Homo sapiens: one gene and its partners. The protein of the gene in region 1 interacts with the protein of each later gene in a pairwise test. Each region holds a gene or a part of one and is shown in the gene's direction. Other genes may lie near its edges.

Region 1 (3,988 bases):
CTGTCAGTAGGGACCTATGTCTTCCTTGGGTAAAGAAAATGTTATATTTTGGTTTTGCCATTTAAAATGATATAAAGACGTTATTAGTACTTTTTTAAAAAGGAACTTTTGGTATTTTTAAACAAGTACAAAAGTAGGTATGAACCACCATGTACCTGTTACTCAGCTTCAAATAGTATCAAATCTTAGTCATTACATTGTTTCATTCGTACTAGAACTTTTTTTCTTTTTTTTTTTGAGATGGTCTCTGTTGCCCAGGCTGGAGTGCAGTGGCATGATCCTAGCTCATTGTAGCCTTGAACTCCTGGGTTCAAGCAATTCTCCCACCTCAGCCTCTCAGGTTGCTCTGACTACAGGCACAGGACCATGCCCAGCTAATTTTCTTATTTTTTGTGGAAATGGGGGCTCACCCTGTTGCCCAGGGTAGTCTCAAACTTCTGGGCTTAAGTGATCCTCTTATCTCAGCCTCCCAAAGTGCTGGGATTGCAGGTGTGAGCCACTATGCTGTGATATAATAAAATGTCTTTATTTATTTATTTTGAGATGGTGTCCGACTCTGTCACCCAGGCTAAAGTGGCAGTGGTGCCATCCCGGCTCACTGCAACTTCTGCTTTCTGGGTTCAAGCGGTTCTCCTGCCTCAGTCTCCCAAGTAGCTAGAACTACAGGCGTGTGCCACCATGCCCAGCTAATTTTTATATTTGTGGTAGAGACAGGGTTTCACCATGTTGGCCAGGCTGGTCTCAAACTCCTGACCTCAGGTGATCCACCTGCCTCAGCCTCCCAAAGTGCTGGGATCACAGACGTGAGCCACTGTGCCCTGCCAAAATCAGGATTATTTAATCAACTTTTCTTTTTTTCTTTTTTTTTTTTTTTTTTGAGATGGAGTTTTGCTCTTGTTGCTCAGGCTGGAGTGCAGTGGTATGATCTTGGCTCACTGCAACCTCCACCTCCCGGGTTCAAGCAACTCTCCTGCCTCAGCCTCCTCAGTAGCTGGGATTACAGGCGCCCGCCACCACACCTGGCTAAGTTTTTGTATTTTTAGTAGAGACAGGGTTTCACCATGTTGGCCAGGCTGGTCTTGAACTCCTGACCTCAGGTGATCTGCCCGCTTCGGCCTCCCAAAGTGTTGGGATTACAGGCCTGAGCCACTGCACCCAGCCTTAATCAATTTTTCAAACAGACTTTGCTTATGGAACCACTTCTTGGAAAATTTGGCAGAACTTCTTTGTAGAGTTTATCTTGTCAAGAATACTTTCATAATGATATAATTAGCACTGTCCAAAGCAGTGTACAAATAATGTGTGCTACATGTAGTATGAGTCCAGTCTGTTTGTACAGGGATATCTTCAGACTAAAGTCCTAGGAGTGAGGCTTCCTGAAGAAGATGAGTCTTGAATAAAGATTGTGTACTGTTTGTATAGGCTAGCATATCCAGAAGGAGAACATTATGTACGTTCTATATAGGGAATGGAAGCATGTCTTAGTTCATTTTATGCTGCTATAACAGAATACCACAGACTGGATAATTATAATCGACAGAAATGTATTTGGCTCATGGTTTTGGAGACTGGGAAGAACCAGAACATGGCACTGGCATCTGGCAGGGCCGTCATGCTATGTCATCCCATGGTGTAAGGTAGAAGAGCAAGAGAGGGTGAGAGAACAAGAACAGAGAGGGCAGAACTTGCTTTTTATCAGGAACCTACTTCCATTACTATGGCATTATCATTGATGAGGGTAGAGCCCTCATAGCCTAATCACCTCTTTTAATGGCCTCAACTCTTAATACTACCACACTGGCAATTAAATTTCAATATGCGTTGTGGAGGAGACATTTAGACCACAGTAAAGAATGAGCAAACACTTGATAGGGGCTAGCATGATGTGAGAGGGATGTAAGGAGTCTGATCTCAATGGAATAAAGTGTTAATTACTGGGAATGGTGGCAGATAAATTTGTATTAGTAGGGTAGAGCTAGATTATGAAAGGTGTATTGGTGTCAGGTTGAATTTAATCTGCTAAGCAATAAGAAGCCAGTAGAGGTTGATAGGGAGCAGGAGAAAACATGAGAGTGTTTTTCAGAAAGATTACTCGTTCAATAGTGTGCAGCATATTTTGGGGATGACACTTGAGGTTTGTTTGAAAAATTAGAGACCAAGCCACTGAGGTAAGGAGCTATTCTGAGAGACGTTAGGATGGAAATTCTACAGGATTTGTCAGATAATTGATTCCATCTTCTCTTTAGTCCCTCATGCCCTAAAGTGACACCAAGGTTTTGAAGAGTAGAGAACTGAGGAAATGTGGTCTATTTGTCTTTGATAGTAAACTGCAATTTGTTATCCAAGCCCAGCTTTTGCGAAGAAAGTGATAGATGATTACTCCAATAACAGCCTCAAAAAGTTTTAGTAGGCCTGGTGTGGTGGCTCACACCTGTAATCCCAGCACTTTGGGAGGCTGAGGTGGGAGGATTGCTTGAGGTCAGGAGTTTGAGACCAGCCTGGCCAACATAGTGAAACCCCGTCTCTACTAAAAATACAAAAATTAGCTAGGTATGGTGGTGTGCCCCTGTAATCCCAGCTACTTGGGAGGCTGAGGCTAGGATAATTGCTTGAACCCGGGAGGCGGAGGTTGCAGTGAGCCAAGATGGCACCACTGCACTCCAGCCTGGGCTACAGAATGAAACTCTGTCTCCAAAAAAAAAAAAAAAAAGGTTTAGTAGAAAATAGCTACCAGTGTTTCTGAATGATTTTAAAGATATTCACTGGAGAATAGGAGCTTGGAAAATAAAGAAATATTATCTTTATTACAGTAAGAGAAATGAACATACTTCATTTGTAAAAGAGAAATTTAGGCCTTACCTGCTTCCTATGTGTATATTAGTTCAGAACGGTTATTAGGAGACTACTCACATTTGAATAGCTATAACCAGTAAATATTACTGGATGACTTTAATAATGGCCTGATCAGAGCTAAAGAAAATTCTGATGAAGTAGGGCATTAAATATTTCTAGCTACCAACTCCCTTTAAGGATGAATAAAGGTAGGTCCGCAGGCTGAGGAAGTATACAGGGAGATTGTGAAATGAAAACTTATCCTTTCATTTACTTCGATATCTTTGTTTTGCACAGGTAATATTAAAAAACAGGTCTGGTTAAACATCAGCCGTATATGTTTTGGTTGGAATTTTTTTTTTAAGTTCTGTGAACTTTGAAGTTTTTTTAAAATTCTTTGTTTTGGTTTGTAGACCCTGCATTAAGCCAACTTTCTGGATCTGTTGTGTATTTCTGGATAGCATACTTTGTTTTGTGAAGGAAAATTTTACATTTTATTTTAAAGCTGGGGGAAAAAAGTAGGTTTCTTGTTTCTCGCTTTGTAAATGAGGTAGATGAATAATACTGTATTGCCACTTATTATCTTCATGCTTCCTTCAATGTCTCAGGTATTCCTCTACTGTATGTAGCATGTGGATCTCAAAGTTTCCCACAGTTGAGTCTGAAAACATCTCAACTGTGCTTATAATTTTAAAATTAAACTTAATTTTACCATTTTCTTTATTGTTATTATAAAATATAGGACCTATCATAATGCCATGAACCTTTTAGTGACTTGGGAAATAGTGATTAAGATGATGCAACATAGTACATTATTGGGAAATAATCTGTTTTTCGTTGGCATCGCCTCTATCCTTAGACCTCTTTCATTCTAGTAATATGACAGAAATATTTTTGACATTTTAAAACTTCCTCATTTAGCTGATCGTGTGTGCTGTTGAAAATGAACACTAGAATAGAAAGCCATTGCCTTCTCCTTGGGGGGTTTGTTTTAACAGGGGTTTTCATGTTTTAATTTTGGATTTGAGATTTGAGTTGAGATATCCATTGTGTAGAGAATCTTGAGAAGGATTATCCATCTTTCTTGCTGTCACCAGTGTATGTGGGAGGGAAGAAAATATCAAATATAGGGTATACAGGAGAACCTTAGTATTTG
Region 2 (3,988 bases), on another chromosome or scaffold:
TTTATGTATTTCTACATTTTAAAACCCCTCTTAAATCCCTATGAGGGTTTTCCTTTTGCATTCTGTTTAAAGGAGAAACAGCTTTGCCCTAGAGGTTAGGGAGTTATTTGTGTTTTACAGTTTTCTTTCCTTTTCTCCAAATTGAACTGATTGTCATTTTTATTAAATTAGTATTTGGAGAACTTTTAAGATAATAGTTCATTTTTTAATGATAGGTTATTTAGAATCTGAAGCACTCTAAGCCACAGCATGTGAAATAATAGGTTAAATTGGTTTTGTTTTGTTTTTTTACTCATTTGTTGCTTATTGCTGTTATATTTTCTCCTCTCACCCACCCCCAACACACACACACGTTTTAAACTTTTATGTGTAGGGCAAAGCAGTTTGTGGGTACAAGGCCTTCTATGTTCCTGTTACGCTTAAAGACTATAGAAAGGTGAGACGGTAACAACAGTATTTAATAAGAAAGTTATTAAGAGATTAATGTCAGCGATATCTGTACATAGTCTTGCATGTGCCTCATGATTATTAGATTTTATTTACATTTAAATATAATGATTTATTATTAAAAACTAGAGAATGACTATATTCTGTGTACTTCCTTCATCTTCCTCTAACCCTCACCATTCCCCTTACATTCTAGTTGTCTGCTACTAGTGTTTCTTGTACACTTAGTATAAGACTAATCATTCCATTTAAAGCACTAATAAACTATGTTTTTACTGTAATAGTTGTATAATATTTAACCAAGATGATAATACAGAAATCAAGATTTCCATGAAATACGATAAAATTCAAAAAACATTTACTAGGTACCTAGTATGTGCTACTTTTACTGTGCTAAGTGATAAGTTACAAAGATGAAGAGGAAATTTGCCTTGGCATTGAGACGATCTGGCATTAGAGAGATCTAAGCTCCAAAGAAACCTTAAAAAGTGTTTTAGGCCAGGTGCAGTGGCTCACGCCTGTAATCCTACTACTTTGGGAGGCCGAGAAGGGTGGAGCACTTGAGGCCAGGAGTTCAAGAGCAGCCTAGGCAAAATGGCTAAACCCTGTTTACTAAAAATAGAAAAATTAGCTGGGCGTGGTGGCGCATGCCTGTAGTCCCAGCTACTTGGGAGGTTGATGCACAAGACTTGCTTAAACCCAGAGGCTGAAGTTGCAGTAAGCTGATATCACGCCACTGCACTCCAACCTGGGTAATAGAGCAAGACTCTGTCTCAAAAAAGAAAAAAGAAAAGTATTTTAAATACCCATCTACACGTTTTATTATTATTAAAACGGGTAAATTTTATTCCGTAGTGGACATGGTTCTATGGGCTTTACTTTGTTAATTCTACTACTATTAAATATTTTACTTTAGGTGTTTGGGACTTTAGTCATAATTCTTCTATTCCAATTTCCTTTTACACAGTCAGGAGTGGTTCCATAAACTGAAGGTATTTAAATCCAGTATGTCATTAGATTGTAGTGGATTAAAGATAATTTCTGATATTGAGATCACAGGACTTTCAGTAAATTCCACTTTATTTGCATGCCTTTGTAATATATTTACATTGTTCAAACTTTTCAGTTTGTATCCCATTCCTAAAACAATTTCGTAAGACTTCTTTTGTATAGTTTCTTTTCCAAGAACTGTATCTCCCTGATCATTTGTCAGGGAGATAAATGATTTAAGCAAATAGAATTGAGTATTTCTTTTTTCTAAATATGTATTTTTTGAAGACTTTTCTGATGATTCTTGGGTTCTAATCAACATATACATAAAATGAGTTTGTGAAAGTATCTGCTCTAGTAGTACCAATTCCATATGAACATAGATTTAACTTTGTAGAATCATCCCTTCCTTGAAGTAGTCAGGCATCTAATTTCATAATATTCATTTTTTAGGAATTTTCTCAAATTGTGTCCACAGATTGACTTGGAATACCTAAATGTCTTGACTGTCTTATGCTCTAATGTTTCTTTTTGTTAAATGAAATTACTAATATTAACACATAAGAGCATTGTGAGGCTCAACTAGACTGATAGTTACATATATGAGTTTTAGAAGTGCCAAATGGACTAACTGTTTTCCTTCCTGCTATCACAGAGTCCTACTCACGATTGCTTTCTGGTTAGACTTTCCTTAAATGATGTCATACCAAATTCACTTATTTTCATTAGCCTCAGGTAGAGGAGAGGATTCCCTTAATCTCTCATTTTCATTAGCTTAGCTAAGCAGATTTAAGTCTGAAAATAAATCCTGCATATACACTATACAATATTTAATGATAGGAAAATAATCAAGTTATTGGAATGATTCCGAAAGGCATAAAGGAGACTAAAGGATAAGGATATCTATCATAGTATCTATAAACTTTAATATAGCTTTAATATAAATTTGATGTTTCCAAGTCTTTGTAGAGGGTAACATTTTCTTTTGTCTAGGCAGTATGCAACAAATTTCAGGAAAAGTCTCTTCCATAATATATCTTCAGTGTTGTTGGCATCACTTTATCTGCGGTAGCTCCCTTGCGGAGCTGCCATATATTTCTCATATATTGTTCTAGTCAGGGCATATGTTCAGCAGAAAGGCCAATTATAGTAGAAATGCCAATATATATTTTTCCCATTTTTTCTCTTAAATATTGTTTAGAAACTGAATCTTCTGGTCTATCTTTGATGGTATTCTATTACAGTAAAAACAGTTCTTTGTGGAGGTTTGTACATTGCTATACTTCTCCCAACAAATCTAGTTTAGTAGACTTTTCTGTTTTGTTTTGAGACGAAGTCTGGTTCTGTCACGCAGGCTGGAGTGCAGTGGCGCAATCTCGGCTCATTGCAAGCTCCGCCTCCCAGTCTCACGCCATTCTCCTGCCTCAGCCTCCTGAGTTAGCTGGGACTACAGGCGCCCGCCAACACGCCCGGCTAATTTTTTTTTTTTTTTTTTTTGTATTTTTAGCAGACAGGGTTTCACCGTGTTAGCCAGGATGGTCTCGATCTCCTGGCCTCGTGATCCACCCGCCTCGGCCTCCCAAAGTGCTGGGATTACAGGCGTGAGCCACCGCGCCTGGCCCTTTGTTTTATTATTTATTTATTTTTTGAGATGGAGTCTCACTCTGTCACCCAAGCTGGAGTGCAGTGGCACCATCTCGGCTCACTGCAACCTCCACCTTCTGGGTTCAAGCAATTCTCCTGCTTCAGCCTTCCAAGTACCTGAGATTACAGATGCCCACCACTGCGCCCGGCTATGTTTAAATTATTATGTGAATTTGACTTTTCTCATCAGTCCTTTTTCATTCCCTTTATAATTTATTTAATTTTTTGTTTGTTTGTTTTGAGACGAGAGTCTCGCTCTGTTGTCAGGCTGGAGTGCAATGTCACAATCTTGGCTCACTGCAACCTCTGCCTCCCGGGTTCAATCAATTCTCCTGCCTCAGCCTCCCAAGTAGCTGGGATTACAGGCACGCACCACCATGCCCAGCTAATTTTTTTGTATTTTTAGTAGAGACTGGGTTTCACCATGTTGGCCAGGCTAGAACCTAACACAGACCACACTCAAACACGCTTATTATTCCTTTTTTAAATTTAGGTGTTAAGCATACACATTTCCTGGAATACATTTATAGTTTTTATTCTTTTAGATATACTATTCATGTTTATATTGTTTTTTATGCATTCTGTTAATTTTTCTTAAGCTTTTATTAAAACTGTCACCCTCTCAGTTTTTCTGTTTTTCAACCTATTTAAATTATTTTTTGTTTCAGAGACGACCACCGGATAATTCTTTTTATGTGCGAACATGTAACAAGAATCCAAAGAAAACAAAATGGTGGTATCATGGTAAGCAGTTTGAATTTGTAATAACTTTTTAGCATTTTGATATGAAGATTATATATATTTGCTATAAGACTTGGGAAAAAGAAGAGAAGCTATAATTGGTGTTATATTTATGTTATATGAAGAAAATTCTTTAAAATATTCTAATATATTTAATGGATGAATT
Region 3 (3,988 bases), about 92 Mb from region 1:
ACAGACGGTAGATGAGAGATTACCTGAGGCTGATGGGGGGTGGAAATAGGAGAAATATTGTTTCATGGATACAGAATTTGTTGGGGGTGATGGAAAGCTTTAGAAATGGATGGGGGTATGGTTCTACAGCATTGTGAAGGCATTTCATGCCACAGAATTGTACACTTTAAAGTTGTTTAAATTGCATATTTTATTATATATTTTTAACTACAATAAAAAGAAATTTCACAAAGCTGGAAAAAAGGAGGGCATGGCATCATATGTGTGCCTGCATGTCCTGGGAGGGGACTGAGCTTAGAGGAGCCAGCGGTAGGCAGATGGAGCCACTGAAAATGGAGGACTCTAAAGGCTTTATGTGGGAGTTTAAATCTCATTTCTGGAGCAGAGCAGAAATGTTTCCCAGCTGCCTATGCAGAGTGTAAGAAACAAGAATGACTCTGCTCCACTGTCTCCTGGTACCTGCTCATCACTCTGCTCCCCACTAATCAGTGTTTACCTCATGTCGTCCTCACAAGCACCCCAGGTCTCCATAGCATGCTTCCCCTCTTACCTGTCACTTAAGATAATATCAGATTAAACTGGGGTCGCTGTAAGCTTGAACTAGTTCTTGTTTAGCCTTACCTGTCTAGAGGCAGCTCCTTGATGCTCAGCTCAGCTCAAATTTACCTTGCACCAGAGCCCAGTGCTAAGAGAGGCTAGCATCAAGGCTAGCCACCACAGTCAGACCTCAGTGGATGAGGTTCAGACAGCACTGGAAGCTAGCCTTTGGGGCCATTTCACACCCGCCTCATGGGCTCACAGCCATTTCCAGCATCCCTCCTGTATATCCTTTCTCGTCCTCTTGCTTTTGGGGCCTTCTCTTCTGACTCTGCTCTCAAGCACTGCTTAGTGTCCCAGCAGCCCTCAGGGTTAAAGTGAACAAGACCAGAGGATTCTAACCTTCCGTTCTGAAATATATTATCAAAACACTTTTATTTAATAAAGAATTCCATTCACATTAATGTTAGGCAAAATATGTCTACTTTCAACTAACGATTAGCATGAATTGGAATAAAAACAGTCAAAAGCAAAAAAAAGTGATATTTTTATTAACTCAGGCAGGCTTATTACAGGTAAAGGTGTTCTTTTCAGCACCATTTCTTTGAAATATTGAAAAGGGCTCATGGGCCACCTTGACTACTTTTGAACACCTCTAGGGGCTTGGGAAACTTCTGCTTTAGTCCCTGCACTTGTGCTCCCACCCCAAACCTTGGTGCTTTCCTAGGCCTCCTGTTGTGTAGAGCCTGTGGGGTACTTAAACAGGTGACAGGAAACCCAGGACAGGACCAGGTCTGAAACTCTGGGCTAATTCCATATCTACTATGAATCCATATGAGACAGAATTCTCTTGGTAATAACAGGCCCTTCAGATGATCCCAGCAACCCACTCCTGTGGGTGAGTAGGCATTTTCCACCAAGGCCCTAGAGTCAATATCCCTGGGACCATTTGTATGACTTGGGAGCCTTGAATGTGAGTGTTTGGGCCATACTGGGCTAGCCTTGCTGATACACAGGAGCTTTTCTGGGAATGGGTAGAGCAGTGAAAGTCACCTGAGATGCTGGAGAGGGTGTGATGTGCAGCAAGAGGGGGCTCTAAACTCTCACCAAATGGTGGTGACCTGGAAGGGAAGCATGAGAGGGGCTCATCGTGACCTTGTTACTGAGTGCCTAGAGCACAGGGCACTGCCCAGGGGTTGGGCAGGAGAGGACTCAGATGAAGGCAGCACCCTTGAGGCTCCAGGGCCACGGGCAGTTGGCTCCTGAGAGACACTCTTTGAAGAGGGCTTCACAATGAATCAGGAGAAGAACCAAGGAATAGAAGGGTTTATAAAGAGCAATAAGGAAAATGGCTGAAGCCTAGCCAAGGCTTAATTCTGTGCAAAGAACTGACTGAATTGTAGTTACTGGCATTTGTGTAGTAAAGAATTTAATCTTGGCTAAGCACAGTGTCTCACGCCTGTAATCCCAGCACTTTGGGAGGCTGAGGCTAGCAGATTTCTTGAGCCCAGCCTGGGCAACATGGTAAAACCCCATCTCTACAAAACAATAACAACAAAAAGAATTTAATCTTGTCCCCAAAAGATCTGGCCTTCATCCTTAACACGTAGGGGGCGATCTGTAAGATACCATACCTGATAGGAATGTCTTTGTTTGGCTGGAAGCTTTAATGCACACCAACAATGTGATTTAGGGTGAGGAATGGCCATACCAAGTAGACCAGCCATGTGATTTCAGGTGAGAGCCTAGCCCGGGCAACATAGCAAGACCCCATCTCTACAAAAATGAAAAAATAAAAGTAAAAAAATTAGCCAGATGTGGTGGCACACACCTGTTGTCCCAGCTCCTCAGGAGGTTGAGGCAGAAGGATAGCTTGAGCCCAGGAGTTTGAGACTGCAGTGAGCTATAATCATGCCACTGCCCACCAGCCTGGGTGGCAGAGTGAGACCATCTCAAAAAACTAAAAAATAAAATAAGGTGGGGGCTTGGATCATGCCTGGAGGAGCTGGAGACTGGAGCCTGAGATCAGTCCTATGGGCATTCAAATAAGTCAGTCATGCTCTCAGGGTGGAGCTCCAATGAGAATTCTGAATACGGAGGCTCCAGTGAGCATTCCTGATTGGGTGTTCTGTGTGTGTTGCCATACAGCAATGCCAGGAGAGTAACACATCCTGACTCCACGGAGAGAGAAGAATAGAAACTCTGCGTTTGGACCCTCCTGATGTTAACCTATGTTGTTTCCCTGTGATAACCAGCAATCTTAAGCACAACCACTTTCAGTGAGCTCTGGGAGTCCTAGGCAGTTATTGCATCTTGGGTGGTTTGGGGAACCCCAGTCTTGCAGTTGGTGTCAGAAGTGAGTGCATCTTGTGTAGACAGTGCGCTGTAATTTAGCAGTGCGTTTTCAGTAGAATGACATGTTTCTTGGGGGGTCTCTTACATGCCCGTCTCTCTTTTGTTTTGTAGTGTTCCACTGGCAGGCCACCATCATGGGCCCGGTAGGTAGTAGCTGCTGAGCGCACCACTCCAGTTTTGCTTCTTGCACTTTGGGCTTAGCACATGCACTGATCTCTTTCTGTGTCTCATCCTTCCAGAATGACAGTCCTTACCAAGGAGGTGTTTTCTTCCTGACCATCCACTTTCCTACAGATTACCCGTTCAAGCCCCCAAAGGTGAGGTCCCTCTCCCAACTCCCCTGATGTTTGGATGAAGGACAGCATGTGACAAGGGGCCCTTCAAGTCAGGTATAGGTAAAAAGAGCTGTACGTGGGGTTTCTCTGAGGGCCCACTGCTCCACCCTGTGGTGAGAGTTTCCCAGGACTTTAATTACTGGACTTTGGGAATTAGCACCTGTTGTGATCAAGGGTCAGTGGGGTGAGCTGGTGCTGGCCTTACTGAGGCCACAGTTTGAATGCTTCTCCTTGTGACTGTAGCTGAGTCTGGTCATGTCTCCAGGCTCTGGCTCCCTTCTCTGCAGTCCCTTAGAGTTAGGACAGGGGTTCTCAGCCGGGGTGATTTTGCTACTGCCCCAGGGACATTTGAGCAACATCTTAGGATATTTTGGGTTATCAAAACCGTGGTGAGGGAGTACTACTGGTATCTAGTCGGCAAAGGCCAGGGTATTCCAGGGATTCCCTGCAGTGCACAGGAGAGCCACCCTTCCCATGACAGATAATGATCAGCCCCAAGTGTCAATAGTGCCAAGGTGGACACACCCTGGTTTAGGACTGGTGAGTCACACCTTCACTTTTCTTTATTAAGTTAAAAGAATAGCAAGCCTCCTTTGCCCTTCATGCACACACCATCCCATCAGTGGAGCTTTAGAGAGCAGTGCCACCAAAGGGAAGGAGAAGCCCAGGGAGCTGCCTCGACCACCCTGCCCTAGCATGTCTTGTGCACCGCAGGTCGTCTCACTCCCTGGACCCTTGGACCTCGTACTCCTTCTCACCTG
Region 4 (3,988 bases), on another chromosome or scaffold:
ATTGTGTATGGCTTTATACATGTTTTAATATATTTTGATAGCATTGATATTTCTTTTCCCGATAGTGTAAAAGTTTGATAATGACGTTATTTCCAGTGATTTGATGTTATTTTAAATGGTTTTAGGTATTGGAGGGCCATGGGCCATAGTGTACTAAACATAGGGATATGTTTATTTATTGGTTTCAGTTTATGCTGTTTACATAAAGTATAAATAATTTATACATCAATGAGAGTCAAGGGAAATTGTGTTATGGGCATTTCCCTATTTGTATTTATTGAGAATTGTTGACTAGAATTGTTTAGTGATGTGTTATTAAGACATTTACTTTCCATCTGTTTCCCAGAGGGTGTCCTTGTCCTCTCCTAGTCACCACTTGTGCAAACAGCGAAAGTTTAGAAAGGTACTGGATTTCTAACTTAACCCCTAATTTCTTTCCATATAGGAAGAAGCACAAATATACTGACGAATATTTTAAGAGTGTATGTTCAGATTGAATCTATACTGGAGATATTTGGGGGTATTTGTATTAATAAATAGTTTCTTGATGTGGGAAAGGCCATATTGGGGGATATGTATTACAGTTTCAAGTTAATAGTATTAATATATTGACTAGCAAAACCTGAGATCAGGTGATTTCGTTGACTTTCTTCTTTAAAAATAAAAAAATAATGAAATCATAAAAGAAGCAGTTGTTTCTAAACCAGTAGTTGATAATCTCTAGATTCCTCATTAGCCTAATTGTCTGAGGATAAATTCTGCTTTCTTCTGAGGGTTGCTACCACTTTCCATCATTTTCTAGGGCGGACTAGAACTTTGCTACTTAAAAGAGTGAGCTGCTGACTGTCAGCATCTGCGTCACAGATGAGGTTGTTAGAAATGCAGACTCTTGCTTCCCCCAACCCCCAACCCAGAATTTGAATTTAACAAGATTCCTGGTGAATTGTATATATAAGTAGGTTTGAAAAGTGCTGGTACTGGAGCAAGACTGTCTGGTTTCAGATCCATGCTCTGTCACTAACTTGCTATGTTATTACCTTAGATACATTTTGGAATATTTCGGTTCTTCTCCTCAGTTGTAAAGTGGGGATTAAAATGATACCCCCCTTTATAATAGGGTTATTGTGAGGATTAAATGACTTAATGTGTTTAAGTTTTGTAGCAGTGTAAATCGAGTCAGTAAAGTGGCCACAGCAAGATAAAAATGGGAGAGACAGTGTAGCCTGTAGTGATGTGCTCTCACTGTTGCTGGCATTTTCTCTAGTGCATTGACATCTTATGTAATTTTATCTTAGTCAGTTCACCAGATAATTGAGTACAAGTACATAACAAGCAATTTGTTTTTTAATGTCAGTAAAAGCAGTTCCTAGGAACTTGCGTAAAAAAGAAAATTAGCCTAAAAACTTCAGGCATAGATGAACAAATATTGTATTCCTTTTAAAGGAACATGCATAAGATTAATGATATTTAATTCAATAGAGAATATTATGATTGTCCAGTAAAGTATAATAAACAATTTTTAGATGAGTAATGATTATATTTTCCCCTTTTAAAATAGAAGAATTTGTGATTTTACTGTGAATGGGATTATATCAGCAGTTGTAAAATTCACATTCTGGATTGCTGTTACCTGCATTACCTAACCCCATAGCATTCTTTCCATGTCTGTGAACTAAGGAGAAATTTTGAAAGCTTTTTTCTAATTGGCGTATGAAAGCAGGTAATAATTGAAATAACATGTGATCCCTATATTAGCTTTGTTGGTTGCTTATAGAGTACTTGGTTTTAAACTCTCTCACACATGTAGATAGACTGCTTTTTCTTCTTTACTTAATACATTTGATTGTTTTTGTTTTAGTGTTTGCTACAAGATTGTATCTCATTAGTTATCTAGTCCTTTTATTTTCAATTCTTCAAAAAAAAAGGTCCTGGAACCCGCTTTTTATAAAAATTAAATCTTAATTGGAAGCTCGACTGTAAAACAGATAAATACAGAACTACTCTGACAAAGTATTTTTCATCCCATTATGCCGTGGGTGGTCATCTACAGATAGTTTGTATTATTAGTTTTATTGTTAATAAATTCATTTTGGCATCAGCATAAACCTCAAAAATCATGAGGGTTTTTCTGGGGACTTGGGCGTTAGTGATAATTTTAAATGGTTTATGATCAAAGCAAATTGACGTTTTATTTTTCAACAAGCTAATAGTTTCTTCAACACAACTGTAATAAAGTACTTTTTTCATGCTGTATTATAATATTTGTCTGCTTTCTGCAAGAGCGAGTGTTCCTTGAATGGAGAGATTGTCTCATTCATTTTTGTATCTTTTCCTTACTTCACATGGTGCTTTGCATGTGAAGGTCTGTTAATAAATAAATTGAAGTCTCTCAAATTGACATAGAAATAGCAATTCCAGGCAAAACAATGACTTCAGAGAAAATTTATTAAATATCCTATACATTCTTTACCTTTTTCATAATTATGATACTTAATATTTAATAACCTATTCAAAGTTTACCTAGCTACTGTTTTTGCTTATAAGAGGAAATTGATACTCACAGTAGGCCTAGTTATTTCCTCCATACGTGCCAGTGTAGCAGAAATACTCAGTACTCTGTGTGACTGGAAACATTTTCCAAAAGAGTGACCAACTGAAAATAATATTCTTCCCACTAAACTTCACATTTTTATTAAGGATCTATTAAGTTCAATGCAGATAATGTAATTAGAAGGTGGGTAAAACAGCATGTGCTTTTAAAAAAAGTTATATGTTTACTTCGCAGCTACATGCTCACATAACCAGTCATATTCCTCTCATAACCAATTAGTACTTTATGCTCTCCTTAAATGAGTTGCTGTAACAACAGATGGATATGTTTACTTTTCAGGAAAATCAGCAAGTCTTGCATAGAGTGTAAGGACATTCAGATTGAGAATGAAGAACTTGTCCTTTCAGTCTCTTCTTCCCTATCAATATGAGATAAAAACATAATAAAATCACTTGTAAATCTAGAGAAATAGAAAGTGATTTTTTTTTCCACATACCAATTTTGACAGGTAAGTATATTTGGGCATTTTAATTGGAATCTGGAAGCTGAAACATCTTCAAACTTTTAACCTTTCTTTTGCCTTTTGATCAGTGGTTCTCAACTGAGGCAATTTTTGTCCTCCCCTTCCCCAGCCACCAGGCTAGGCGACAATTGGTAATGCCCAGAGATATTTTTTGCTTTTCATAACTGAAGGAGAAGGGGGCTACCACTGACATTAGTAGGTAGACGTCAGTGGTACTGCTGAATACCCTGTAATACATAGGACAGACCCCCACAATAAAGAATTATCTGGGCCAAAATGTCTAGTGCTGAAGTTGAGAGACCCTCCTATAGATATTTGTTCCTGTACTTTGCCTCTTGAATTTTTGAATAGTTTGCTTTTGACTGTTTTCCTGTCTTATTAGTGATGCATCCTTAATATATTCACCTACACCTTCCTCAGCTGATTCTTCACTTCCTGCTACTTCTATGCGTAGTTTACATATGTCTTATATTATTTGTCATACGTGTGTGTTATTTTTTATGTGAAACCACAGGAATGACTACCTTGAGTACTTGCTAAATTATGGTCTTCTGAGGCCAGAAATGCTTACAGCAGTATTTTATTTCTTTTAGGTCTTGTGCCAGTTAATTATATCCCTGCGTGATCTAGCTTTAGGCTGGTTATATCTATTATGTTCTACTAGGAGTACTAAAGTAACATCATGGAGAAATAACATTGGACAGTCATCAAAATTCAGTTTGACATTGAATTACACACAGGTTAGAAATGTGTGCTCTTCATTTGGGTTTTATTTTCATCATTATGACAATACACAAGTTACTTCAATTTTTACAAGTTCACAATCCTTTATTTGAAACCCTTGGGGCCAGATGTGTTTCAGAATGCAGAAAGTTTCATGTTTTAGAAAGGTAGTATGATGTGTTTGTGGTACT

Evidence for each region. Proteins that work in one complex are often made in the same cells at the same time.
Region 2: the proteins of CNOT4 (region 1) and UBE2W interact in a two-hybrid assay, tested with the Homo sapiens proteins (one large-scale study listed by BioGRID and IntAct).
Region 3: the proteins of CNOT4 (region 1) and UBE2D4 interact in a two-hybrid assay, tested with the Homo sapiens proteins (one large-scale study listed by BioGRID and IntAct).
Region 4: the proteins of CNOT4 (region 1) and UBE2E3 interact in a two-hybrid assay, tested with the Homo sapiens proteins (3 studies listed by BioGRID and IntAct).

What each region holds. Positions count from the first base shown.
Region 1 is NC_000007.14:135,499,706-135,503,693, reverse strand, and holds part of CNOT4 (CCR4-NOT transcription complex subunit 4), read left to right. Parts: intron 1-3,988. UniProt on the Homo sapiens protein: Has E3 ubiquitin ligase activity, promoting ubiquitination and degradation of target proteins. Involved in activation of the JAK/STAT pathway. Catalyzes ubiquitination of methylated RBM15.
Region 2 is NC_000008.11:73,805,488-73,809,475, reverse strand, and holds part of UBE2W (ubiquitin-conjugating enzyme E2 W), read left to right. Parts: intron 1-3,749; coding exon 3,750-3,825; intron 3,826-3,988. UniProt on the Homo sapiens protein: Accepts ubiquitin from the E1 complex and catalyzes its covalent attachment to other proteins.
Region 3 is NC_000007.14:43,939,823-43,943,810, forward strand, and holds part of UBE2D4 (ubiquitin-conjugating enzyme E2 D4), read left to right. Parts: intron 1-1,072; exon of another isoform or gene 1,073-3,003; coding exon 3,004-3,035; exon of another isoform or gene 3,036-3,131; coding exon 3,132-3,209; exon of another isoform or gene 3,210-3,988. UniProt on the Homo sapiens protein: Accepts ubiquitin from the E1 complex and catalyzes its covalent attachment to other proteins. In vitro able to promote polyubiquitination using all 7 ubiquitin Lys residues, but may prefer 'Lys-11' and 'Lys-48'-linked polyubiquitination.
Region 4 is NC_000002.12:180,986,992-180,990,979, forward strand, and holds part of UBE2E3 (ubiquitin-conjugating enzyme E2 E3), read left to right. Parts: intron 1-346; coding exon of another isoform or gene 347-403; intron 404-3,988. UniProt on the Homo sapiens protein: Accepts ubiquitin from the E1 complex and catalyzes its covalent attachment to other proteins. In vitro catalyzes 'Lys-11'- and 'Lys-48'-, as well as 'Lys-63'-linked polyubiquitination.